7 linked regions of the Homo sapiens genome follow. The protein of the gene in region 6 purifies or fractionates together with the protein of the main gene of each other region. This does not show direct contact. Each region holds a gene or a part of one and is shown on either strand. Other genes may lie near its edges.

What was found.
Region 1: the proteins of MGMT (region 6) and DDX24 purify together in Homo sapiens (affinity purification with mass spectrometry, with the first as the bait; one study listed by BioGRID). This does not show direct contact.
Region 2: the proteins of MGMT (region 6) and DTL purify together in Homo sapiens (affinity purification with western blotting, with the first as the bait; one study listed by BioGRID). This does not show direct contact.
Region 3: the proteins of MGMT (region 6) and CDK12 purify together in Homo sapiens (affinity purification with mass spectrometry, with the first as the bait; one study listed by BioGRID). This does not show direct contact.
Region 4: the proteins of MGMT (region 6) and PTPN4 purify together in Homo sapiens (affinity purification with mass spectrometry, with the first as the bait; one study listed by BioGRID). This does not show direct contact.
Region 5: the proteins of MGMT (region 6) and POLD1 purify together in Homo sapiens (affinity purification with western blotting, with the first as the bait; one study listed by BioGRID). This does not show direct contact.
Region 7: the proteins of MGMT (region 6) and PRKCH purify together in Homo sapiens (affinity purification with mass spectrometry, with the first as the bait; one study listed by BioGRID). This does not show direct contact.

The regions. Positions count from the first base shown.
Region 1 is NC_000014.9:94,071,203-94,074,702, reverse strand, and holds part of DDX24 (ATP-dependent RNA helicase DDX24), read left to right. Parts: intron 1-3,500. UniProt on the Homo sapiens protein: ATP-dependent RNA helicase that plays a role in various aspects of RNA metabolism including pre-mRNA splicing and is thereby involved in different biological processes such as cell cycle regulation or innate immunity.
Region 2 is NC_000001.11:212,094,748-212,098,247, reverse strand, and holds part of DTL (denticleless protein homolog), read right to left. Parts: intron 1-3,500. UniProt on the Homo sapiens protein: Substrate-specific adapter of a DCX (DDB1-CUL4-X-box) E3 ubiquitin-protein ligase complex required for cell cycle control, DNA damage response and translesion DNA synthesis.
Region 3 is NC_000017.11:39,523,986-39,527,485, reverse strand, and holds part of CDK12 (cyclin-dependent kinase 12), read right to left. Parts: intron 2,813-3,500; coding exon 2,601-2,812; intron 1,623-2,600; coding exon 1,170-1,622; intron 1-1,169. UniProt on the Homo sapiens protein: Cyclin-dependent kinase that phosphorylates the C-terminal domain (CTD) of the large subunit of RNA polymerase II (POLR2A), thereby acting as a key regulator of transcription elongation.
Region 4 is NC_000002.12:119,766,422-119,769,921, reverse strand, and holds part of PTPN4 (tyrosine-protein phosphatase non-receptor type 4), read right to left. Parts: intron 1-3,500. UniProt on the Homo sapiens protein: Phosphatase that plays a role in immunity, learning, synaptic plasticity or cell homeostasis. Regulates neuronal cell homeostasis by protecting neurons against apoptosis.
Region 5 is NC_000019.10:50,404,847-50,408,346, reverse strand, and holds part of POLD1 (DNA polymerase delta catalytic subunit), read right to left. Parts: intron 2,166-3,500; coding exon 2,025-2,165; intron 1,941-2,024; coding exon 1,830-1,940; intron 1,365-1,829; coding exon 1,173-1,364; intron 1,021-1,172; coding exon 932-1,020; intron 1-931. UniProt on the Homo sapiens protein: As the catalytic component of the trimeric (Pol-delta3 complex) and tetrameric DNA polymerase delta complexes (Pol-delta4 complex), plays a crucial role in high fidelity genome replication, including in lagging strand synthesis, and repair.
Region 6 is NC_000010.11:129,701,241-129,704,740, reverse strand, and holds part of MGMT (methylated-DNA--protein-cysteine methyltransferase), read right to left. Parts: intron 1-3,500. UniProt on the Homo sapiens protein: Involved in the cellular defense against the biological effects of O6-methylguanine (O6-MeG) and O4-methylthymine (O4-MeT) in DNA. Repairs the methylated nucleobase in DNA by stoichiometrically transferring the methyl group to a cysteine residue in the enzyme.
Region 7 is NC_000014.9:61,324,579-61,328,078, forward strand, and holds part of PRKCH (protein kinase C eta type), read left to right. Parts: intron 1-3,500. UniProt on the Homo sapiens protein: Calcium-independent, phospholipid- and diacylglycerol (DAG)-dependent serine/threonine-protein kinase that is involved in the regulation of cell differentiation in keratinocytes and pre-B cell receptor, mediates regulation of epithelial tight junction integrity and foam cell formation, and is required for glioblastoma proliferation and apoptosis prevention in MCF-7 cells.

The sequences.
Region 1 (3,500 bases), on a different chromosome or scaffold from region 6:
TAGCAGAATTTTGAATTGTAGTGGTAAAGTGGGCATTATTGCTTTGTGTTTGATCTTCTGGGGAAAACATTTAGTCTTTCACCATTAAGTCTGATCTTAGCTGTAGGTTTTTTGTAGGTGCTTTTTATCACGTTGTGGAAGTTCTCTTTGATTTCTCATTTGCTGAGAGGTTTTATCAGGGTTGGATGTTGGATATTTTTCAAATGCTTTTTTACTGCATATATTGAAATAGGTGGTTTTTCATTTTTAGTCTGCCAATGTGGTGAATGACATTGATTTTCAATTATGAAATTAGACTTACATTCCTGGGATAAACTGAACTTGGTCACAATATACTATTCTAATTATATTTTGTTGGATTTGATTTGCTAAAATTTTGTTGAGAATTTTTGAACTTATGTTCATGGGATAGTTGTAGTTTTCTTGTAATGTTTTGGTGTTGGAATCAGTAATGTAGCTTCAGAATGATTTCTGAAGTATTCTGTTCAGTTTTCTGAAAGAATTTATACAGGATTGACATTTTATACCCAACTTAAATTTTTGGTAGAATTCATCTGAGCCTGCACTTGTCTTTGTAGGAAGATTTTTGACTACAAATTTACTTTGTTTAATAGATTAGAGATATTTGTGTTACTTATTTTTTTCTTTTTTTTTTTTTTTGAGATGGAGTCTCGGTCTGTTGCCCAGGCTGGAGTGCAGTGGTGCGATCTCAGCTCACTGCAAGCTCTGCCTCCTGGGTTCACACCATTCTCCTGCCCCAGCGTCCCAGGTAGCTGGGACTACAGGTGCCCACCACCATGCCCGGCTAATTTTTTGTATTTTTAGTAGAGACAGGGTTTCACCGTGTTAACCAGGATGGTCTCAATTTCCTGACCTCGTGATCTGCTCGCCTCGGCCTCCCAAAGTTCTGGGATTACAAGCATGAGCCGCCACACCCGGCCACTTATTTTTTTCTTGAGTGACTGTTTTCTACTTGCAGTTCTATTAGTTTTTGTTTCATGTATTCTGACAATCAGTTTATGTGAATACATGTTTTATGGATTAAAATATTAGATTATTATTATATCCTCTAAATGAATTGGCTTGTTATCGTTATGAAATGGCCCCCTTTATCCTTAGTAATTTTTTTTTGTTCTAAAATGTCCTTTGGTATTGATGCAGCCAGTCCAGCTTTATTGATTAAGGGGTTAGCATGGTATGTGTTTTTCAATACTATTACTTTCCCTTATTTATATTTAATGTGAATTTCTTATAGGCAGCATATAAATGGGTCTTGCTGTTTAATCAGACAGTTCGTGTCTTTGAGTTGAATTATTGAAGCCAGGCATGGTGGCTCACATCTGTAATCCCAGCACTTTGGGAGGCCAAGGCATGTGGATCACTTGAGGCCAGGAGTTCAAAACCAGCCTGGCCAACATGGCGAAACTGTCTCTACTAAAAATACAAAAAAATAGCCAGGCGTGGTGGCATGTGCCTGTAGTCCCAGCTGCTTGGGGGGCTGAGCCACAAGAATTGCTTGAACCCAGGGGGCGGAGGTTGCAGTGAGCTGAGATTGTGCCACTGCACTCCATCCTGGGTGACAGAGTGAGACTCTATCTCAAAAAAAAAAAAAAAAAGAAAAGAAAATTAATTGAGTTACTGAGATTATTTACGTTTAATGATTATTGATAATGGTGGGTTTACTTATTTATTTTTTGACTGATAGCATACCTGATTTATTTATTTTTTTCACATTTCTGTTTTTTATTTTAAATTTTTTTTTCCTTTTCTATGTTTAGATGTTTATTTTTAATTTTTTTAAATTTTTCCATAAGTTATTGGTGTACAAGTGGTATTTGGTTACATGAGCAAGTTTTTTTGTTTGTTTGTTTTTTGAGACGGAGTCTTGCTTTGTCACCCTGGCTGGAGTGCAGTAGTGCTATCTCAGCTCACTGCAATCTCCACCTTCTGGGATCAAGCCATCCTCCTTCCTCAGCCTCCCAAGTAGCTGAACTACAGGCATGTGCCACCATGCCCGGCTACTTTTTGCATTTTTAGTAGAGACAGGGTTTCACCACGTTGGCCAGGTTGGTCTTGAACTCCTGAACTCAAGTAATCTGCCCACCTCGGCCTCCCAAAGTGTTGGGATTACAGGCGTGAGCCACTGTGCCAGTTTAGTGGTGATTTGTGAGATTTTGGTGCACCTATCACCCGAGCAATATACGCTACACCATATTTGTAGTATTTCATCCCTTGCCCCTCTTTCATTCTTCCCCCCAAGTACCCGGAGTCCATTGTATCATTCTTATGCTTTTGCATCCTCATAACTTAGTCCTGCATATCAGTGATAACATACGATGTTTGGTTTTCCATTCCTGAGTTACCTCACTTAGAATAATAGTCTCCAGTCTCATCCAGGTCACTGCAAATGCTGTTAATCCATTCCTTTTTATGGCTGCATAGTATTCCATCCTGTATATACCACAGTTTCTTTATCTACTCGTTGATTGATGGGCATTTGGGTTGGTTCCATGATTTTGCAGTTGTGAATTGTGCTGCTATAAAATTATGTGTGAAAGTATCTTTTTTGTATAATGACTTCTTTTCCTCTGGGTAGATACCCAGTAGTGGGATTGCTTGATCAAATGGTAGTTCTACTTTTAGTTCTTTAAGGAATCTCCACGCTGTTTTCCATAGTGGCTATACTAGTTTGCTTTCCCACCAGGACATAGAAGTGTTCCTTGTTCACCACATCCATGCCAACATTGTTTTTTTTTTGAGATGGAGTTTCGCTCTTGTTGCCCAGGCTGGAGTGCAATGGCGCAATCTCGGCTCACTGCAACCTCTGCCTCCCGGGTTCAAGTGATTCTCCTGCCTCAGCCTCCCGAGTAGCTGGGATTACAGGCATGCGCCACCATACCCAGCTAATTTTGTATTTTTAGTAGAGACGTGGTTTCTCCATGTTAGTCAGGCTGGTCTCAAACTCCCGACCTCGGGTGATCCGCCCATCTCGGCCTCCCAAAGTGCTGGGATTACAGGTGTGAGCCACTGTGCCCGGCTTTTTTTCTTTTTTTAAGTCAAAGGCTCACTCTGTTGCCCAGGCTGGGGTGCAGTGGCACAATCTTGGCTCACTGCAACCTCCGCTTCCCAGGTTCAAGTGATTCTCCTGCTTCAGCCTCCTTAAGTAGCTGGGATTACAGGTGCCTGCCACCATGCCCGACTAATTTTTGTATTTTTAGTAGACATGGGGTTTCACCATGTTGGCCAGGCTGGTCTTGAACTCCTGACCTCAGGTGATCTGCCCACCTCAACCTCCGGAAGTGCTGGGATTACAGGCATGAGCAACCGTGCCTGGCTGCCAACATCTACTGTTTTTTGATTTTTTGATTATGGCCATTCTTGCAGGAGTAAGGTGGTATCACATTGTGGTTTTGCTTTGCATTTCCCTGATCATTAGTGATGTTGAGCATTTTTTCATGTTTGTTGGCCATTTGTGTATCTTCTTTTGATAATTGTCTATT
Region 2 (3,500 bases), on a different chromosome or scaffold from region 6:
GAGGTCCTGAGTCTGTCCATGTAATAACTTCAGTGCTAGTATAACTAGCATTCAAGACAACCAGTACACTAAATAAAACTACAACCAAGTACTCTCACACAGTCCACTTCACTCCTTTCCTACCACCTCCATTAGAGCAGGTGCTAGTATCCATGGCATACAGACCTGAAGACAGATCACATCACAGGACTCTTAGCAGACACTCTCCAGTACCAGCCTAGAACCCAGTAGCTCTGCTGGGTGGCTCGACCCAGAAGAGCAATAACAATCACTGCAGTCCAGCTCTCAGAAAGCCCCACCCCTAGGGAAGGGGGAGAGCACCACACCAAGGGATCACTCTGTGGGACAAAAGAATTTAAACAGCACACATTGAGTCCCAGATCTTTCTTCTGACATAGTCCACCCAAACGAGAAGGAACCAGAAAAACAATTCAGGTAATATGACAAAACAAGGTTCTATAACCACCCCTAAAAGATTATACTAGCTTACCAGCAATGGATCCAAACCAATAATAAATCTTTGAATTGCCAGAAAAGAATTTAGAAGGTCAATTATTAAGCTACTCAAGGAAGCACCAGAGAAAGATGAAAACCAACTTAAATTTAAAAATAAAACAAAACAGGATGTAGACGAAAAAAATCTCCAGAGAAATAGATATCATAAATAAAAAACAATCATGACTTCTGGAAATGAAAGACACATTTAGAGAAATGCAAAATACACTGGAAAGTTTTAACAATAGAACCAAACAAGTAGAAGAAAGAATTTTGGAGCTCAAAGACAAGGCTCTTGAATTAACCCAATTCAACAAAGACAAAGGCAAAAGAATAAAAACTTCTCTGGCCTTGCTCGAGATCTAGACATCCAAATACAAGAAGCTCAAAGAACACCCAGGAAATTCATCACAAAAAGATCATCACCTAGACACACAGTCATCAGGCTATCTAAAGTCAAGATGAAGGAAAAAATCTTAAGAGCTGGGAGGCAAAAGCATCAGGTAACCTGTAAAGGAAAAACCTATCAGATTAACAGCAGATACTCTACAAGCTAGAGGGGATAAAGGTCTTATCTTTAGCCTTATTAAATAATTATTAGCTGACAAAATAATTATCAGCCAAGAATTTTGTATCCAGTGAAACTAAGCTTCATAAATGAAGAAAAGATGAAAGTCTTTTTCAAACGCTGAGAGAATTTGCCACTACCAAGCCAGCATAGTTTACAAAAACTGCTAAAAGGAGTTCTAAATCTTAGAGCAAAACCTTGAAATACACAAAAATAGAATCTCATCTCATAGTGGGGGACTTCAATACAGTAAGTCAACATAGAAACAATGGACTTATACCCTAGAACAAATGGACTTAACAGGTATTTACAGAACATTCTACCCAACAACTGCAGAATATACATTCTATTCATCAGAACATTCATGGAACATTCTCCAAGATAGAGACCATATGATAGGCCACAAAACAAGTCTCAATAAATTTAAGAAAATCAAAATTATATCAAGTACTCTCTCAGACCATAGTGGAATAAAATTGGAAGTCAACTCCAAAGGGAATTCTTAGAACCATGCAACATTAAATAATCCGCTCCTGAATGATCTTTGGGTCAATAATGAAATCAAAATCAAGCTGGAAATTAAAAAAATTCTTTGAACTGAATGAAAAAAGTGACACAACCTAACAAAACCTCTAAGATACAGCAAAAGCAGTGCTAAGAGGAAAGTTCACAGCATTAAGTGCCTACATCAAAAAGTCTGAAAGAGCACAAATTGACAATCTAAGGTCACACCTCAAGAACTAGAGAAATAAGAACAAACCAAACCCAAACCCAGGAGGAGGAAAGATATAACAAAGACCAGAGTAGAACTTAATAAAAATGAAACAACAACAACAAAATACAAAAGATAAATGAAACAAAAAGCTGGTTCTTTGAAAAGATAAACAAAATTGATAGCCCATTAGTGAGATTAACCAAGAAAAGAAGAGAGAAGATCCAAATAAGTTCAATTAGAAATGAAACAGGAAATATTAACAACGAATACCACAGAAATACAAAAGATCATTCAAGGCTACTATGAACACATTTGTGCTCACAAACTAGAAAACCTAGAGGAGATGGATAAATTCCTGGAAATATACAACCTCCTAGATTAAACCAGGAAGAAATAAGAACTCTGAACAGACCAATAACAAGCACTTAGATTGAAATGGTAATAAAAAAATTGCCAAGAAGAAAAAGTCCAGGACCAGATGGATTCACTGCTGAATTCTATCAGACATTCAAAGAAGAACTGGTACCAATCTTACTGAAACCATTCCAAAAGAGAAAGAGGGAATACTCCCTAAATCATCCTATGAAGCCAGTATCACTCTAATACCAAAACCAGGAAAGGACATGACAAAAAAGAAAACTACAGACCAATATCCCTGATGAACATAGATGCAAAAATCCTCAACAAAATACTAGCTAACCAAATCCAACAGTATATCAAAAAGATAATCTACCATGATCAAATGGATTTCAAACCAGGGATGCAGGGAAAGTTTAATATACACAAGTCAATACATGTGATACACCATATAAACAGAATTAAAAACAAAAATCAGGCCGGGTGCGGTGGCTCATGCCTGTAATCCCAGCACTTTGGGAGGCCGAGGAGGGCAGATCACTTGAGGTCAGGAGTTTGAGACCAGCCTGGCCAACATGGTGAAACCCCATCTAAAAATACAAAAATTAGCCAGATGTGGTATCTCAGCTACTTGGGAGGCTGAGGCAGGAGAATCCCTTGAACCTGGGTGGTGGAGGTTGCAGTGAGCTGAGATGGTACCACTGCACCCCAGCCTGGGCAACAAGAGCGAAACTCTAAGAGAAAAACAAACGAAAACACATGATCACTTCAATAGAAGCAGAAAAAACGTCTGACAAAATCCAGCATCCCTTTATGATGAAAACACTCAGCAAAATCAGCATAGAAGGAACATACTTGAAGGTAATAAAAGCCATCCATGACAAACCCACAGCCAACGTTATACTGAACGGGGAAAAGTTGAAAGCATTCCCCATGAGAACTGGAAAAAGACAAGGATGCCCACTTTCACCACTTCTATTCAACATAGTAGTGGAAGCCCTAGCCAGCCACAGTCAGTCAGAAAAGAGAAATTAAAAGGCATCCAAATTGGTAAAGAGGAAGTCAACCTGTCACTGTTAGTAAATGATATGATTGTATACCTAGAAAACCCTAAAAACTCATCCAAAAAGCTCCTAGATCTGATAAATGAATTCTGTTAGGTTTCAGGATACAAAATCAATGTACATAAATCAGTAGTACTGCTATACAGCAACAGCAAACAAGCTGCAAATCAAATCAACAACTCAACCCCTTTTACAATAGCTGCAAAACCTAGGAATATACCTAACTAAGGAAGTAAAAGACCTCTACAAGGAAAACTACAAAACACTGCTAAAAGAAATCAGATGACACAAACAAATGGAA
Region 3 (3,500 bases), on a different chromosome or scaffold from region 6:
AATAGTAAAACAGCAGCCCAATTAATAGGCTGTCACCTTCTCTGGTTTATACAGTCTGCCCTCTGGTGGAAGTGCTAATTAACAGTGAAATGGCCAAATAGAGATAGCAGGGGAGAAACAAGAACAAGTGAGCCACTGTAGAGGCATCAGCTGAATAATCCAGGGGTGACTGCAATAATTAGTTACGGCATCTCTACACTTTCCTCTGAAAAGTAAATCCAACAACTTCTGGCCATAGGCCAGGCCTTAAAACATATACTTTCTGCACCACCTCATATGAAATGTGAATGTAGGACCCTAAAGTTGAAGATTAGTATATCTCTTCAGCCCTCGAGCCTCTTCTTATTCCCCAATTCATGGGGTCTTCATGGACAGTGAGAATTTCCGAGGAGTTAAAAACATTTTTACATAAGTAAAGATTTTGCAAATACAGTGTGAATCAGAATTAAAGAACTTAAACTGCTTTTCCCTCTAATAAATTGCACGCTATGGTCATGTGAGATTAACGTATAACTTATCCCCATTTTCCTTTTTTTTCTTTATAATACACGCACTTCCTGATCTGGGGTCCATTCAATTGCTTCTATCAGAAACAGATTTAAAGGAATTGTTCTTATACACTATTATTTTTGGGAAAAGAAATGTATAGTGTTAATTATCTACTTAGAAATATTCCCAAATTATTCTTCAGGAAATTAACAATGATATTTTATTAGGGTTTTCTTGATTGTATCTTCCAGGAAAGACTGGCATTCAGCATCCACTCCACTAGAGGTAAAGAAGTATAGTCTGATAATGGTTTGTTTGGAAGTCAGATTTCCAAGTGCTAGGACTAGTTGGCCACCACACACAGTTCAAGATGTGTGGTTCAAGATGCATCACTAGCTATGGTTGTGGTTTCCTTGGTTAGAACACAGGGGCTTTACTTACCTATCTCCTAGGAGGTGGAAAAACAATCAGTATAGGAAAGGTGCTTTGGGAAGCTTTGAGACTTAAATAAAAGAAGCCAAGCAAGAAATACATTACTTGGTGCTATGTTCTCCTGTAGACTAGGTTACAGAATAACTGAAACCAAGGCCATTGATGTGGGGGAAAAAAAATGTTAAGAGATTTTTAAGAGGGTATCAACAGCACCTGAGCTCAATGAGATTCATGACCGGTCTGTTTACCTGCTGCCTCCTCCTGTGGCATTGTGGGAGTTCTTCGGGGCCCCTGTGGCCCACTGTTCTTGTCACTGTTGTTTTCCTCCAGACTGCCTGCTGGCTCTTGGGTTTTCATCAGCTGACTCAAGAGAACTGCCAATATATTCTGCATGTCAGCTGGTGTGCTTGAAGCTTCAAGGGTCGTCTGTTCTGCTGAAGGCAGGATCACTGGGGCAGAGGGTGCTTCCTTCAAAGACTCCTCTGGGGCCATGGTCTCTGAGTCCTGCTGCTGGGAAGTAGCTTCCGTCAGGGCACTGATGGATTGGTTCAGGGCTTCCAGCTGCTGCTGCATCTCTGGGTTGGAGTGGATGTTAAGCAGCTGTGCCATTTGAGGGATGCTCAGGTCGGTTTGGCTCTGCAGCAGGTTTAATAACACTGCCAATTCACTTTGATTCAGCTGTTGTGTGATGTCAGCAAGGCCTGTTGAAAGACAGTGAAGCCAATATAAGACGATGAGATAGGCCAAGGGCCCTTTGCCTTCTTCAACTGGCAACAGCAACTTACAATATCCAAAAAATGAAATTTCATTTTAAATGTCTCATTTTTTCATGCCTCAAAATGTCATGACACATTTTGTTACTCTTTATGCTTTCGCTTAAGAAATACAGGCACTAATAACTAAAACATCTCTGGATTGTGCATAAAAGTGACTTCACTTTATCTGTATTTTTCAAGTTCTGTGATTTTCAATCCTTTATTATACATCAGAATTACTAAGAGAGATTTAAAAATCTCTCCTATTCAGATGCCTCAGGACCCATCCCTAGAGATAGGCAATCGTATAGGCATATTTGTTTTTAAAGCTTCCAGGATGATTCTAATATACAGCCAGTATTAAAAGCCACTGCTATAAGTGAAGAGGGGAAAGTGAACCAGAAAAAGAGTATCTTTTGTCCCGAAGAATTGGTCATAACACAGGAGAACTACTTTGTTATAACAGTTCAATATGACATAGTTTCAGATACATTTAGATCAAAATAACAGTCTATAGAACAACATTTAGCAATTGTAATTTAACACTACTAGATTCTATGAAGGTCTTATCAAATCTAATATAAACAAGGCTCCAAATTATGTGTTTCATAAAGTCATGGGTGAACTAACCTTAAATTAAATTTGGCTTACCTAATTCACTGATTTATGCCACACATCTAATTGAGATACAGTGTTCCGTACATATTTCAGGAAAGGAAAATGATCTATTGTAGACTTTCTGGACCATATGTACGAAACTTGGTTAATCTCCTTCTCACCATAATGAGGACATTAACCTCTTTCCTAATGGTTCACTGGACCAAAAACTAAAAAACAGACACACACACAAACTCCTTACACTTGACCTTCAAAACCTGCCAAATACGCTTAGCAAAAGCACAAAGGCCCCATTCTGGCACTGACCTATTGCATCCCCAGCCCCAGACTCCACCTTGCCAGGAGCAGGCTGAGGTGGTGCTGGGCTGCTGTTCTTCACAGGCTCAGTACTTGTCCCTGAGGTAGTTTCTTTTCGAGAAGTTTTGGATGGAGGTGGCTCTTCGACTACAACACCACTTTGTCGCTGACGTCGCCGTTTCTTACTCCACAACTCATGGCAATCCTGCCAGTGGGGGAGGCTGGAAAAAGACAAAGCAAAGGGGAAATATGTAAGGGAATGCAGCAGTGAATGAATGGAGGAGCAAAGGATTAAAATGGGAAGGCAAAGACTGTGGGAAATGTAAAGAATAAGGAAAACAAAAATAACCAAAAAAGTTAGTAAAAGTAGGTAACAGCAGTGTAAAATAAATCATGGCAGATGGTAGTCTGAGGAAATAAAAGTACGAAAGTTACATAGTGAGAAAGGAGGATCTTGCTAATACTAGGTACAGACCAGCTATATAAATTCCCATATAAATACTGTCTTTCCTTGGCATAACAACAAAAAAGGAGAACAGTATTGGTCAAGTTTCAGTAGGGAATAAAGACGAGGACAGTAATGGCTGGCTTGTTAATGTATACAGAAGGTCGAGGAAAGGCGGTGACTTAAACCATGGAACCATGTATCATGATCAAAACATCTCTGTGCAAAATCAACTTATGTGTAATTTGGTTTGTGAGGACCAAAGACTAGTTCTTTCCCCTTTCTGCCCACAGAATTTCTATGACTGGATATCAACTTGCTCATCTGTGGAGTTCAGCACTACGTATAACTTAGTCCAGAATCTCTCATACAATCAGACCAAGTAGGTCAAATCTTACTATAAATCTCTCTATAATAGGAGTTCCCAAATTTCAGTAAAACCCTTATATGTTTCAAGTCATATT
Region 4 (3,500 bases), on a different chromosome or scaffold from region 6:
AATTTAACTAAAAACAAAATAAACAATGACCCTTGGATTACTCCAAAGACCTACCAAAAGATGGCATTTAAAATGGGAGCAGGCAGCTATCCCAGATACATATCAAAGTTCACTCAGGGCATTTTTTTGATAGTAGGTGTTGCTAATTAGTTTTGCTTACCCAACTTTAAAATAACCATTACAGTTTCCTTCTCTTAATCCCAACAAATGTTAAGGTGTATGTAACCCTTGAAACGCAAAGGTATTTTTCTTGATGCTGTCCCCTATTCTTCCATGACCTGAGATCTTTTACCTCTATGGCAAACTTCTCGAAGAGCTGTCTCATCTATATTCATTGTACACTTGGTTTCCTCAATTTAGTTTATTACACTCTTCCACTATAACTCTTCTGCTAAAGCAACAAACCTCAAACTAGTACACCTCAGAAGAACCTTAGCATTTCAGCAGATTTTCCCAGGCTACCACTTCCTGGCTCCCCACTCCCCCTTTTAAGAATCTATAAGGTCTGAGATGAGACCTGGGGAGTTCATATTTTTCATTAGTATCTCCATAATTCTGATACAGGCAGCTCGCCTGAACACACTGGAAAACCAACTAGCTGAGATTATCAATAACTTTCCAACAGTCAAATTCAAAGCCTCTTGGTCTTCTCTTTTTCTCTCAGCAACATGGCAGCTTCATGAAATTCCTTACTTCACCATCATCTAACACACAACCACACTCCTCTCTCACAACCTTTCTTTCAGTCTTCTTCACTGGCTTCTTGATTTCGGAGAGCCCTTAATCTTTCAGTGATGGTAGTTAGGAGCTCTGTCAGTGTGCCTCTTCCTAACTTTATATATACTTCATAAGCAGTGACAGTCCCACCCATTGCTTCAGCTACCATCTATACAACCTTAAATCCTGCCACTTTGGATTCCACAGATACTCAGAGGCTATGCAGTACAGGAGAGAAAAGATGCTTCAGTATCAGACGAATCTGAATGCAAAATATTTACTCAGCTATTTACACAGTAACATGCCTAAAGACACAGACCTTTTTGAATTTCAGCTCTGTTCTCCTTTTAAAACTGGGAATAGCACCTTTCTAACAAATTTCTGTCCTGATTAAATGAGGGGAAAAAGATTAAATGAGAAGTTCTCTTTCCTACATGGACCTGACAGCAAGCTCTGAGGACCCCATGCCACAGGCCTCAGAGGCGGCAAGCAAGGAGAAAGGAGACAACTAATGCGGGGTCGGAAGACTGGCACATACAAGGGGATTGAGCAAATAAGTAAATACACTGAGGAGATAATAGGAACCAATTTATCACTGCTGGAGAAGAGATTTACAAATACAGAAAGGGAAAAGGCTAGACGAATCCTGAGATGTTAGATTGGAATTGGTTGTATCAGTGTGAACTTATAAAATACCTGTACATAGGCATAGAAACAGATTCAGATGTGTGTATACATATATGTATTTCCTAGCTCTATCCCCCTAAAAGTGATGACATGCCAGCAGAAATGAACACACTGAACACTCGGATCTCAGTTCCTAAATAGCATCTCTACTTAAAAAAGTAAAATAAAATCAGGATTCCTTGGAAAAATAAATGATTTCAGAGCTGGGATAGGAGAGTATTAAGATCATCTGGAACATCTTGTTAGGCCAGAAAGTAAGGAAATACACCAAGGAGGGGGACAGGTCAAGGAGATAGAGGAGCCAACTTAAAGGCCAAATTTGGGACAATTTGACCAACAAAATGAAATTTTAAAATGACAGTAACTAATATAAACCACTAAACAGAAACAAATCCAGGAGTATATATTGATATAAATGAATGAATAAATAAATGTATGGAGAAGAAGGAGAAAATCTTCTTTCAGTAGAATATGAACTAATAAATGTAGGTGACAACTTTCACAGTTGTGGCTGATTCAGGTAGCAATCATCAGACCTGAAGGCTCGTGGTTACAGCCTTCAGCTCTATTGACACACTCCCAGATATCTTCTCACATAAGAATTCCCAATTACAAAAGGAAAAAAACGATAACTTCACAGTAGAGAAACCCAGCAGACTTGAATTTAACAGGTGTTCAAAGTTAAACATCGCTAGTAGCAGGACTATACAGCACGTCTCTTAGTGATGTACTAAGAATATCACGACATTATTTCTATGGCATTCCTGCCAACAATGCACTCGGTCTGCACATGAGGAACCACTGGATGAACTTAAGTTGAGGAAAACATGTAACAGAAAAAAAGGACTCTGCTCATTAAAACTGTCAAGGTCATAAAGGACAGGGAAATATTGAGGAATCATTCCAAACTGATGGAAACTAAAAGATGTGACAATTAAATGCAATGTGTGAACCTGAATTGGATGCTGGACCAAAAAGAAAAGAGAGATACTACTGGGATAGTTGGAAAAATTTGAATGGCATCTAGGTTCGACCTGAAGGTAGTGTTATATCAACGTTGATTTCCTGATTTGGCGGTTATGTAGGAGATTGTCCTGTTTTGCTAAATACACACTAAAATATTTAGTAGTGATAGGGATCATGTCTGCAACTTGCTCTCAAATAATTCAGGAAAAAAGCCAAATGAAATTAGAAATGGTGCATTCCCCTGAAATGGAGAAATAAGGATTAAAATGTAGGACCAGAAATGAGAGATGATGAGGTTGTTTCACTGAAATTTGAGGATCCAATTAGATACAGTAGAAAAAGGGAAAGGGCTAAACACAATTCCAAGGTGACCACTTGGGGCATCTGGAAAAGGCCTTACTGAGCCAAGCACGAGGTGTTCCAGGCTCATCTTGAGCTGTGTATACACACGGTACATAGCTAGTACAATGTTAAAAATTAGTTTAAGGCGATTCAGGAGCTCTTTGTTGTACTTTTCTTGAGATTTCTCATTAGGTTTGAAATTATTTCAAAATGTTAAATGAGAACTCGTGACAACTTCGCTGTCTAGCAAAATACCTGGCTCACTGGAAGTGCTCAATAAAAATAATCTGGCCTTCCCTTGCTAAAGAAGGGAAGCTGCCAAAGAAGAAATCCTAGCATCATCTTCAACTCTTTCCCCCCATGTCCAAATGGACTCTCAGGTCTAGTGAAACTACTCAGTTTTCAGTTCTAATCTCATATCTATATTGCCCTATTTCTGGTTCCTATCATCCCTCCCCTGGACCACTGCAACAGCATCTGGTCTCTCTGCTCCATTTCTAACCTCATCCTTGCATTATCCTTGTAACTTTGCATCATTATCTAGAAGTCAGGAGTTACCTTTCAAAACCTGCATCTAATCTTATCATCCCTTATTTAAATACCTCTAAATTGTTCCTGAATGTTAATGCTGATTTCCCAAGAGGCAGACTAAATGCATGTTTAGGGCACCAGTAACGCAAGGGCACCAAAGAGATATTTCACACACACACACACACACACACACAGACACACACACACACACACACACACACACACACACGCGCGCACATGCGCATACACCAGTGAAA
Region 5 (3,500 bases), on a different chromosome or scaffold from region 6:
TTTATTTTTTTTGAGACGGAGTCTCGCTTTGTCACCCAGGCTGGAGTGCAGTGGCGCAATCTCAGCTCACTGCAACCTCCACCTCCCGGGTTCAAGCGATTCTTCTGCCTCAGCCTCCCGAGTAGCTGGCACTGCAGGCGCCCGCCACCATGCCCAGCTAATTTCTGTATTTTTAGTAGAGACGGGGTTTCACCGTGTTAGCCAGGATGGTCCCAATCTCCTGAACTTGTGATCCGCCTGCCTTGACCTCCCAAAGTGCTGGGATTGATTACAGGGGTGAGCCACCGTGCCTGGCCTATTAATTTATTTTAGGGCCGGGGTGTTGCTCTGTCGCCCAGGCTGGAGGGCAGTGGCGCAATCATCGCTCACTGCAGCCTCCACCTCCTGGGCTCATCATCCTCCCAGCTCAGCCTCCCAAGTAGCTGGGATTACAGGCATGCACCACCACGCCTGGCTAATTTTTAAAAATTTTTTCGGCCGGGCACGGTGGCTCACGCCTATAATCCCAGCACTTTGGGAGGCCGAGGCAGGTGGATCACGAGGTCAGATCGAGACCATCCTGGCTAACACGGTGAAACCCCGTCCCTACTAAAAATGCAAAAAAAAAAAAAAAAAAAAAAATTAGCCAGGCGTGGTGGTGGGCGCCTGTAGTCCCAGCTGCTGTGGAGACTGAGGTAGGAGAATGGCGTGAACCCGGGAGGCAAAGCTTGCAGTGAGCTGAGATTGCGCCACTGCACTCCAGCCTGGGTGACAGAGCGAGACTCTGTCTCAAAAAAATAAAAATAAAAATAAATAAAAATAAAAAAATTTTGTGGAGCAGGGGCCTCGCTATGTTGCCCTGGCTGGTCTCAAACTCCTGAGCTCAAGTGATCCTCCCACCTCAGCCTCCCAGAGATTACAGGTAAAAACTGCACCCAGCCTGGGGCCTCACCCTTTGAGGGGCTCGATGACAGTGGCTCCCGTGTAGTCCTCGCCGCCCTCTGACTTCACCACGGGCATCAGCAGCCCCTCGTGCATGGCCTGGGAGGGGAGAAGGTGGGAAATGGAGTGGGTATAGGTGGGGCCGTGCGGATTGGGAGTGGGGAGAAAAAGTGCATCCAGGATGCCATTGCCTGGAGGGGGCCACAGACGTGCCTGGTGGGGGGTGGCGAGGACAAGTCTCGGCTACTGACCTGCCGCAACAGCTGGGATACGACCTTGACCTGCTGGCCACGACTGAGCAGGTAGCTGAGGGGCACGCCAGTGACCCTCGCCATCTCCACGGCGTTCACCAGCACCATGAGCCGCTCCAGCAGCCGCAGTGGCAGGTAGGCATCCTTCAGGCAGTACACAGCCAGGCGGCGGCGGGTCTGGTCGTTCCCATTCTGGGGATGGGCACGGATGGGGTCAGGGACCAGGGGTTGGGGGTGGGAGGTGGAGCAGGAGAAGGAAGTGGGGGTCAGGGTGAGGTAGCCTGGGGAGGGCCTGGGAGGTGAGGCGGGCAGGAGGGCCCTCCAAGTCGTCAGGGTCTGGGTGGGGATGGAGGTAGGGTTGGGGGCCAGGGAGTCCACAGGGCCAGAGGGAGGAGGAGGGAGCAGCCTGAAGGCCACCGTGGACCTGTGGTCAGGCCAGGAAAGCAGAGACAAGGTCATAGTGACAGAGGTCACAGGAGTGGAGAGAAATCTGGGGTCAGAGGTCAGGAAAAAGTGGGCGTCAGGTAAGGTCACAGGTCATAACAGCAGGTCAAAGAGTGAGGTCAGACGTGGGGGCGTGAAGTTGAGGTCAGAGGCCGGGGAAGGGTGAGGTGGAGGTCAGAGGTTGGGGTGAGAGGTCAGGGAGGCAGCAGGCACCTGCAGGTCGGTGATGATGCTGTGCTGCACGTCCTCCTTCTGCTCGCCCAGGAAGTGGAAGCTCACGGCATTGAGCGTGTAGGAGCGGAGCTTGTACTCCCGCAGCAGCACCTAGGTGGGTGGGTGGGCTGGTGGGCTGCGGGCCTGGGCAGTGGCCTTCCAAGGACAGGGACACACCCCACCTCCCGCCCATACCTGCAGCATGTCCATCTGCACGCGGCCCACCATGCTGACAACCTTGGTGTCCCGCCGGCCCGTCTGCTTGGACTGGAATGAAGAGTCCCGGATGTTGGAGCAAAGGCCGGCCACACGGCCCAGGAAAGGGAATGTTTGTACCTGAGGAGGAGAGGCAGGGTGTGCAGCAGGCTGCGGGTCCCCGTCACATAAGCCTGAAGAACGGAGATTGAGACCAACCACAACATCCTTATAACAACCCTAGGGGGTCGAGAGCAACCCTGGGGGCAGAAAGACGGTCTGGGGCTGGGTGTGGGTGGCTGGAGACTGGGGAGGGAGTCCGGAGTAAGGACTAAGCTGCAGCCAAGGCTGGGATAGCGAGAGTCAGGGGCCCTGATGGACTGGGGGCCAAGGATGGAGCCCAGTGTCTGCGGGCTGTACCTAGGCAGGAAACAGGAAGAGATTTGGGGACACTGTGAGCAGGCGGCCAGGTGGGGGCAGAGGCAGGAGGCGGCGTGGAGCTGGGCTGAGATGGATGCTGAGGGCGCTGGAGGGCGCCTGGCTGCAGGAGGCCTTGCAGGGTGCTGGGGCCCAGCCTGGGGGAGACTGAGGCCAGAAGAAGCCTGAGCTGGGGACAGGGCAGAGGGTGAGGGACACCCAGGGAAGGGGAGGAGGAGTACCATGGCCCGGGCATCAGCGCCACGCTGTGGAATATACACTGGGGGTCCTAAGAGTTTGTTCTGTATTTTAGAATGGATTTTTTCTTGTTTTCTCTTTAATAGAGGCAGGGTCTTGCTATGTTGCCCTGGCTGGTCTTGAACTCCTGGGCTCCATCGATCCTCTCGCCTCATCCTCCCAAAGTGCTGGGATTAGAGGCGTGAGCCACCACACCCAGCCTGTTTTGTTTTTCCATTACCAAGCTGGCCAGACATAGAGAAAAGCAGGAAAATAAGGCAATATATCTCATTAAGGGCTGAACCATGTTCTCCCAAAAGATGTTGAAGCCCTAACCCCCGGCACCTCAGAATGTAACCTCATTTGGAAATATGTCTTCGCAGGGGGTCAAGTGAAGATGAGGTCACTGGGGTGGGCCCTCACCTCACGACGGTGTCACTACACAAAGAGGACATGTGGGCTAGGTGCACTGGCTCACACCTGTAATCCCAGCACTTTGAGAGGCTGAGGTGGGCAGATCACCTGAGGTGAGGATGGAGACCAGCCTGGCCAACATGATGAAACCTAGTCTCTGCTAAAAAAAACAAAAACAAAAACAAAAATAGGCCAGGCGCGGTGGCTCACGCCTGTAATCCCAGCACTTTGGGAGGCCGAAGTGGGCAGATCACCTGAGATTGGGAGTTCGAGACCAGCCTGGCCAACATGGAGAAACCCTGTCTACTAAAAATACAAAATTAGTCGGGCATGGAAGCGGGTGCCTATAATCCCAGCTACTTGGGAGGCTGAGGCAGGAGAATCACTTCTACACCCCAGCGCCCCCTG
Region 6 (3,500 bases):
TGTTTTTCACGGTGGAGCAGGAGGGTGGTCAGAGGTTTCCAAGCACACAAATCCTGACGGTTTTAAGGAAGGAGCCAGAGAATGAAGGGAAAAAGAAGGAAGCTCACTAGGATGACCGACAGCCACGGATAACTGTGACCAGCAGTCGGACCTGTGAACCAAGCCCAGCAGAGCCGGCTAAATTACGCTGACCCCGTGGACACTGCGGCCAGACAGAACATGCCCCGGTCTTCTCCAAACTGCCGCCTTACCCAGATCCCTGCCCAAGGGAACTCACGCAGACAGTGCCCTCATTCAGCCCAGTACCCTTAATACACAGGCTGAGGTCTCCACAGCCCAAGCCACTGCCTGGAAACCCTTGTCGGTCCCGTCACAAAGAGGCCCTGGGGGAAGCCGGGCTCACTCTGCAGGCAGAGAATGGGCCTGCCGAGCAGGCAACGAAGTGGCCTCTCTCAGAGTTTCCTTAGGGCATGGGAGTGCTGTCTTTTCACTGCCCAATTTCCTTCCCCGTTAGTGAGGTCTGGCCACGGAAAGGAGAACTTCTGCTTGGCTTAAATATTATTCAATTTCAGAGACACACCTTCAGTCATTCAATTCTTGCTCTGCTCTTTGCTAACCGAATAAACAGTGTACTGATGCTATCTAAGAAGAACGATGGAGAAATATGTAATGTACTTTGCTGTCCTGATCCCTGGGGAAGGCGGCCGAACAGAGGGGTGGAAGCCCTGTGCAGTGAGGGTTAGCCCCGGCTCCCTCCTGAGTGATGCAGAGCTGGCTGCTGTCAACCACCACTGCCCAGACAGGAAGAGCAAGCGTGATGGGGCCCATGTGCCCCGACCTTCAACTGAGGAAACAAAACCCCTGATCAAGCCACCTGGGCCTGGCACCTCCTGCAGCAAGAGCTCAGCTGACATCTCCTTCAGGGTTCGAGGGATGGGACAGGAAGGGGCTGAGGCGCTGGGTGAGGGTCTTGTCTCCTGCACTACCTCTGCTGGTGTCATGAGCTGGCGTCCGTGGTGGCACCTGGGGCTGCAGGATTTGGGCTCCGAAGCAAAGGTGCCCCCCCGGCGAGGATGGAGTGGAGCACAGGGGCTGCCGTTTCAGTGGTGGGTGAGTTGTACGGTCCCCGGGTAAGACTGGGATGTGGGATTGGTTGGCGAGGCATGCACCTCAAGGTCAGGGTTAGTCTTCAGGACTAGCGGGGTCTGGCTGGCCATCACACCCCGCAGATGGGGTTTCTCAGGGAAGCGAGGGTACACTGTGGGAGAGGGGGCATTCTACCACGAGAGCTGGGAGGTTCTGTGCCCCCAGCAACTGCTCAGACTCCAGAGTTAGGATTCCTTCATCACCCCTGAGCAAAACGGGGTGCACACCAAGCCTCTGCCCACGCGGGCGTCCTTCTCTCATGCTGCTGAGGGAATTGAAATGTGAGCTGGCTTTCCTAGCAGTTCCCACTCTTAAAGGGATATTTGAAGAATTTTTATAGTAGTAAAATTCATCTTAAATTGATTTTTTATGCTTGTGCTGAAGATCTCAACCTCTGATTTACTCTGTAGTTCTCCTTTTTAACTCTTTCTCTATTGGCATTAGATAACTATTCATGGGTGAAATGTAATTAAACAGCTTTGATTCTGAAGCAATGATTTATGATACTACATTTAAAATGAATGGCATTAAACACACACATAAAACCAGATTTTTAAAGCCATGACACAAATTTCCATTTCTACAGTAAAATGAAATTTATTCTCCTGCCCTGCCCTCTCCTCCTTCCCTGCCGCGCTCGGCCCTGGAAGAAGAGCTGGGGTGATGGCCTCTCTCACGGCGGCGCTTATCACGGGGGAGTTCCTCAAGCTTCCCCACTGGCAAACCCTGAAACACTAACAATTACGGGCTCCGTAGCCCACGCTCATGGAAATGCCACGTCCCAGTCTTCCCCAGGGGCCCTGCAACTCACCCACCACTGAAATGCCGGCCCTGTGGTCCGCCCCATCCTTGCCGGGGGAGCACCTTTGCTCGGAAGCCCAAATCCTGCAGCTCCGGGGGCTGCCACGGATGCCAGCTCATGATGCCAGCAGGAGCCAGTGCAGGAGACAAGACCCTCACCTGGTACCTCAGCCCCTTCCTGTCCCATCCCTCAAACCCTGCAGGAGACAAGACTTTTGCCTGGCACCTCAGCCCCTTCCTATCCCATCCCTTGAACCCAGCAGGAGACAAGACCCTCTCCCAGCATTGGTGGGGAAACACTCAGAGCCCATCAGAGTCGCACCTCCCCTAGGCCTCTCCTAGGACATCACGTGTCACCCACAGAATAATCCCGAGGCAAATATCATGACACTGGTGGCTTTCACTTTCTTTGACTTGGCACGAGAGGATGGTGGCTGGTGGGTGAAGCAGCCCAGCTTTGCTGGGCGTGTGTACATGTGACAACAGGGCGTCGGGCACCTTAACACAGCAAAGCTAGAGCCATGTGGACCTGGCTCAAGGATTTCTTTAAGAAAAACACAACTGTTGGCAATGCCAGGGGTTCCTTAAAATCAAACCGGACAACACTGACCTGCCCTGGGTAGAAGCTCCCGGGGCTGCGGCAGACTGGAAGGCCCCGGTGATATTCTCCCGGAGTTGCCGTCTGTGGGAAGCTGCCCTAACCCATTCGCCTTCCCCGGCTTGGAAAAACAATGTCCCAGTGATGAACTGCCTTGCAGATTTATTTTGATTTAAATCGCCTTCCCTTCAACCCAAACCAGGGCACAGAAAGGTGGTTAGAATGTTCCAGCACAAACTCATATGAGCACAGCAGCTATTCCAGGGAAAAGCGTCCTCCCTACCTGCAAGAAGCTTCCTTTCAAGACACTGATATTATCAAGAACGTGAAGGAAGAGTGGCAGCGGCCCACCTGAGGCACAGCAGAGCTGGGGGTGATGAGAGAAATTTAAGGGAAATGGCCCCTGTTGGACACGGGCTTCCTTTGACTGTGTGGGAATCCCACCTGGCCACAGACAAAGGGTAGAGGAAGCAAGTGCCCCAGGAGTCTTGATCTCAGCCCAGCTCAGCATGAGGAAAGCAGCAAGCAGGAAGAGTGAGTGTTCCTGGTACCACGGCTACCAGGCTCTTCCCAGTTTAGAGTGCTCAACATTCTAAAACTTGACCAGCCAGCTGGGAGATTTGGGTATTCAGATTTTTGGGTGCCTTAAGATTCCACTGGCAGTAGAGAATCACTAAATGTCCATTTCTGAATGAATTCTACTCCCCAGAGACATTAACACACGATGTACTTGGCTTGAATCCTGTTTGATTTAAGAAAATCGGCCAAGAGTCCTTCATAAGTTACTCACATCTGAGGCACCATCGGGCTGACCGTGGGACACTCCAGATGGGGAGTGCTGTGTACCCTCTGCCTCTCCTGTGACCCGAACACCTCCTCTCTCTCTCCATGGACGACGTTTTCATCTTATGGTCTGGGAATGCTACCTGACCACCCTGGAGGGTCACCCAAGGAA
Region 7 (3,500 bases), on a different chromosome or scaffold from region 6:
TGGAATGCATGCTTTTTTAAAAAAGTATCCTTTATAGGTTCAAAAATGCTTTAAAAAAATAGAGATGGGGTCTTGCTACCTTGTTGACCAGGCTGGTCTTGAACTTGTGGCCTCAAGCCATCCTCCCACTTCAACCTCCCAAAGTGCTGGGATTACAGGTGTGAGCCACTGCATCTGGCCCAAAGGTGCTTTTGAAGTTCAGGATTAAAGAAATACTTATTTATCTTTAGTATTTTAAATTGACATGTAGTTTATTCAGAGAGTTAAATGTGGAATAATTGAATTTACTCCATAATAAATTTATGGTTGCAAGTGGAACTACAGATTACTGACTTAAAAAAAAACTATTGAAGTTGCAGGTTCAAAAAACCCCCAAAACCTAGTGACTTAGTTTTTGCTAGATCCAGAGAAGCTCTTAGCTGTAGGTTATGGATGAGAGGATTCAATATGGTTAAGATCTCAATTCTTCCCAAAGTATTCAATAGGTTCAGTATAATCTCAGTCAAAATCTAAGTTTGTTGTAGAAATTGACAGACTGACTTTAAAATTTATATGGAAATGTAAAGTACTGAGACCAGTCTAAGAATAGTTTTGAAAAAGAACAAGTTGGGGGACTTAGAGTATCTGATTTCAAGGCTAACTGTAACATGACCGTAATCAAGATAATGTGATATTGGAATAAAGAGAGTCATACAGATCAGTGGAATGAATAGAAGAGAGTCTAGGAATAGATCCACACATATATGACCCACTGATTTCTGATAAAGCTGCCAAGAAGGCAACTCAGTGGGGGAAATGATAGTCTTTTCAACTAATGGTGCTTGAACAACTGGATAGCCACATACAGTAATATGAGCCTTGACACTTACCTCACATCCTACAAAGACATTAATTCAAAATGGATTATAGACCTAAATGTAAGAGTTTAACTGTGAAACTTCTATAAGAAAACAAAATTGTAGTGACCTTGGGTTCAGCAAAAAATTTTTAGATAGCGTACAAAAGGCACCAACTATAAAAAAATCAGTAAGTTGGACTTTATCAAAATGAAAAACTATTGCTTCCCAGAGAATGTTTAAGAAAATAAAAACCCAAGCCACAAATGGGGGAAAATAACTGCAATACGTAAATGAAAGATGTGTAACATGAATATATAAAAGAACTCTAACAGCACAATAATAATGAGAAAAATACCTAATTTAAAATCCAACAAATGACTTGTAACTTGTCAAATATTTCAATAGGCACTCACCTTCATGCCAAATAGCACATTAAAAGATGCTCAAAATCATGAGTCATTAAGGAAATGCAAATTAAAACCAAAATGAGATCTCAGTATGTTCCCACTAGAAAGGTTAAAATTAATAAGACTGACCATACCAAGTGTTGGTGAGGAAGTGGAGCACCTGGAACTCTCATATGCTATGGTGAGGAATGTAAAATGGTAAATCATGTTGGAAAATAGTTTGGCAGTTTCTTAAACTATCAAACATATGCCTACTATATAACTTACTGTTTAGTATTTACTAAAAGAAATGAAATCATTCATACAAAAGCTTGTCCACGAGTGTTCATAGCATCTTTATTTGTAATAACCCCCAAAGTGGAAACAACTCAAATGTCAACAGATGAATGTTTAAACAATTGTGGTTTATCCATACAATGGAATATTACTCAGCAATAAAAAAGATGAACTATTACACATGTAACAACAGGAATGAATCTCAGAATAATTATGCTGAGTGAAAGAAACTAGACAAAAAAGTACGGTTTCATTTATGCAAAATTCTAGAAATGAAAAGGAGTCTATAGTGACAGGAAGCAGATCAGTGGGTGCCTAAAAATGGAGAGTGGAGGTAAGGGAGGTGGATTACAAAGGAGGCAGAAACTTTTAGGGGAGATGAATATTTGTGTTATTCTGATTGTGGCAATGATTTCACAGTTATATACATATGTCAAAGCTTATTAAATAGTTCACTTTAAGTATGTGCATGTTACTATATGACAATTATACCTGAATAAAGCTGTGGGGAAAAAAACCAATCAGCGCTTATCCATATTTTACTGAAGGTGTTAAGTAAGATGCTAGTAAATGACAGAATTTCAGCTGAGCCAAGTCTGACTCTTGAAAACTACATTTCCTCTTTAGTGCAGAAAATATTTATGAGAATGGGAGCGTAGAAAAAATGAAATCACAATAAAACAAATTAGTTTCTGATTTTTGGACATGGTCTCATTTTCTAAATTATCACTGTCAGTTTTTTTTCTGCTGCTTCTAGAACATGTTTATTTTGCATAATTTCTCTGGCTTCCAAAATCTGAAGAATTGCCTCTGTTTAAACTCTATTTTCTTCTTTCGTGTACTTGCTCTTGATTTGCTGACCTTCTAAATGGGGACCAGCATCTAATGCTTAATGCAGAGTGCTGGGGACATGGGGAGGCAGGAGGAGCTGGAGGCTGCGTCATGGAAAGACCTTGGCGCCCCCTCAGGAAGGAAGGACTGGCTTGGCAGGATCCCAGGCTGTTTTCCTGGTTCAGCCCTCCCGAAGACATTGTGTTCTCTGCAGCCCTGGAGGGCCTCTTTCTCTCAATTTCTCAGTGAGGTACCTGTTTTGTAATCAGTCCTGTCAGGTGAAGCAGCCATGTTACTACTGGACAATCATGGATTATCTTTTCCCTTCCTTCCTGGATCCAGGTGTCTGAATTTATACCACCAAAATTCTTCCAGATTTTCTATCTAGTGGTTCATTCTCTTTTGTACTTTGTAGTGCCGTTGTTTATTCTCATGATTGATTTTTTTCTGAGCCAATTGGAAGGAATGTCTAACACTGACTGATCAACCCACAGTGTTTAAGAGGAAAAATATATTTTAGAATCTTGAGGGAGTTTTATTTCAGTGTATGTGAATTGTATTGGCTATGTAGCGTCTTCATTTTCATTGTAAGAAGAATTTTGCTACAGTGGGACCGGCTGCTTCTCATCACAAACAGGTTGTGGCTCAGATATTTTCCCCTTTGGAGAGCATTTTCCTGGTCATATTATTATCTTGTTGTCTTTCGTTGCACTCATTGCTCTCTGAGATCATTTTGTTAATGAATTTGCTTATTATACTTTCCTCCTTTAGATTACAAATGGCTTGAGAGCAGGGACCCACCTCTCTTATTCACTGTCCTAACCCTGGGACAATGTCTCATATGTAGTAAACATTAAATATTTGTTAAATGAAATTTTATGTGATTGGGGGACAAGTAAAGTGTAAGTACTTTGGGAGCATCTTTCCATCTTTCTAAAAGAAAGAAATGAAAATAGTTGAGGAGTTACTGGATGAACAGTATTCCTCTGTTAAATCAATCAATGACATACCAATATGTGCTTGAAAGACTGGGCCTGGGCCGGGCGCGGTGGCTCACGCCTGTAATCCCAGCACTTTGGGAGGCCGAGGCGGGTGGATCATGAGGTCAGGAGATCGAGACCATCCTGGCTAACAAGGTGAAACCCCG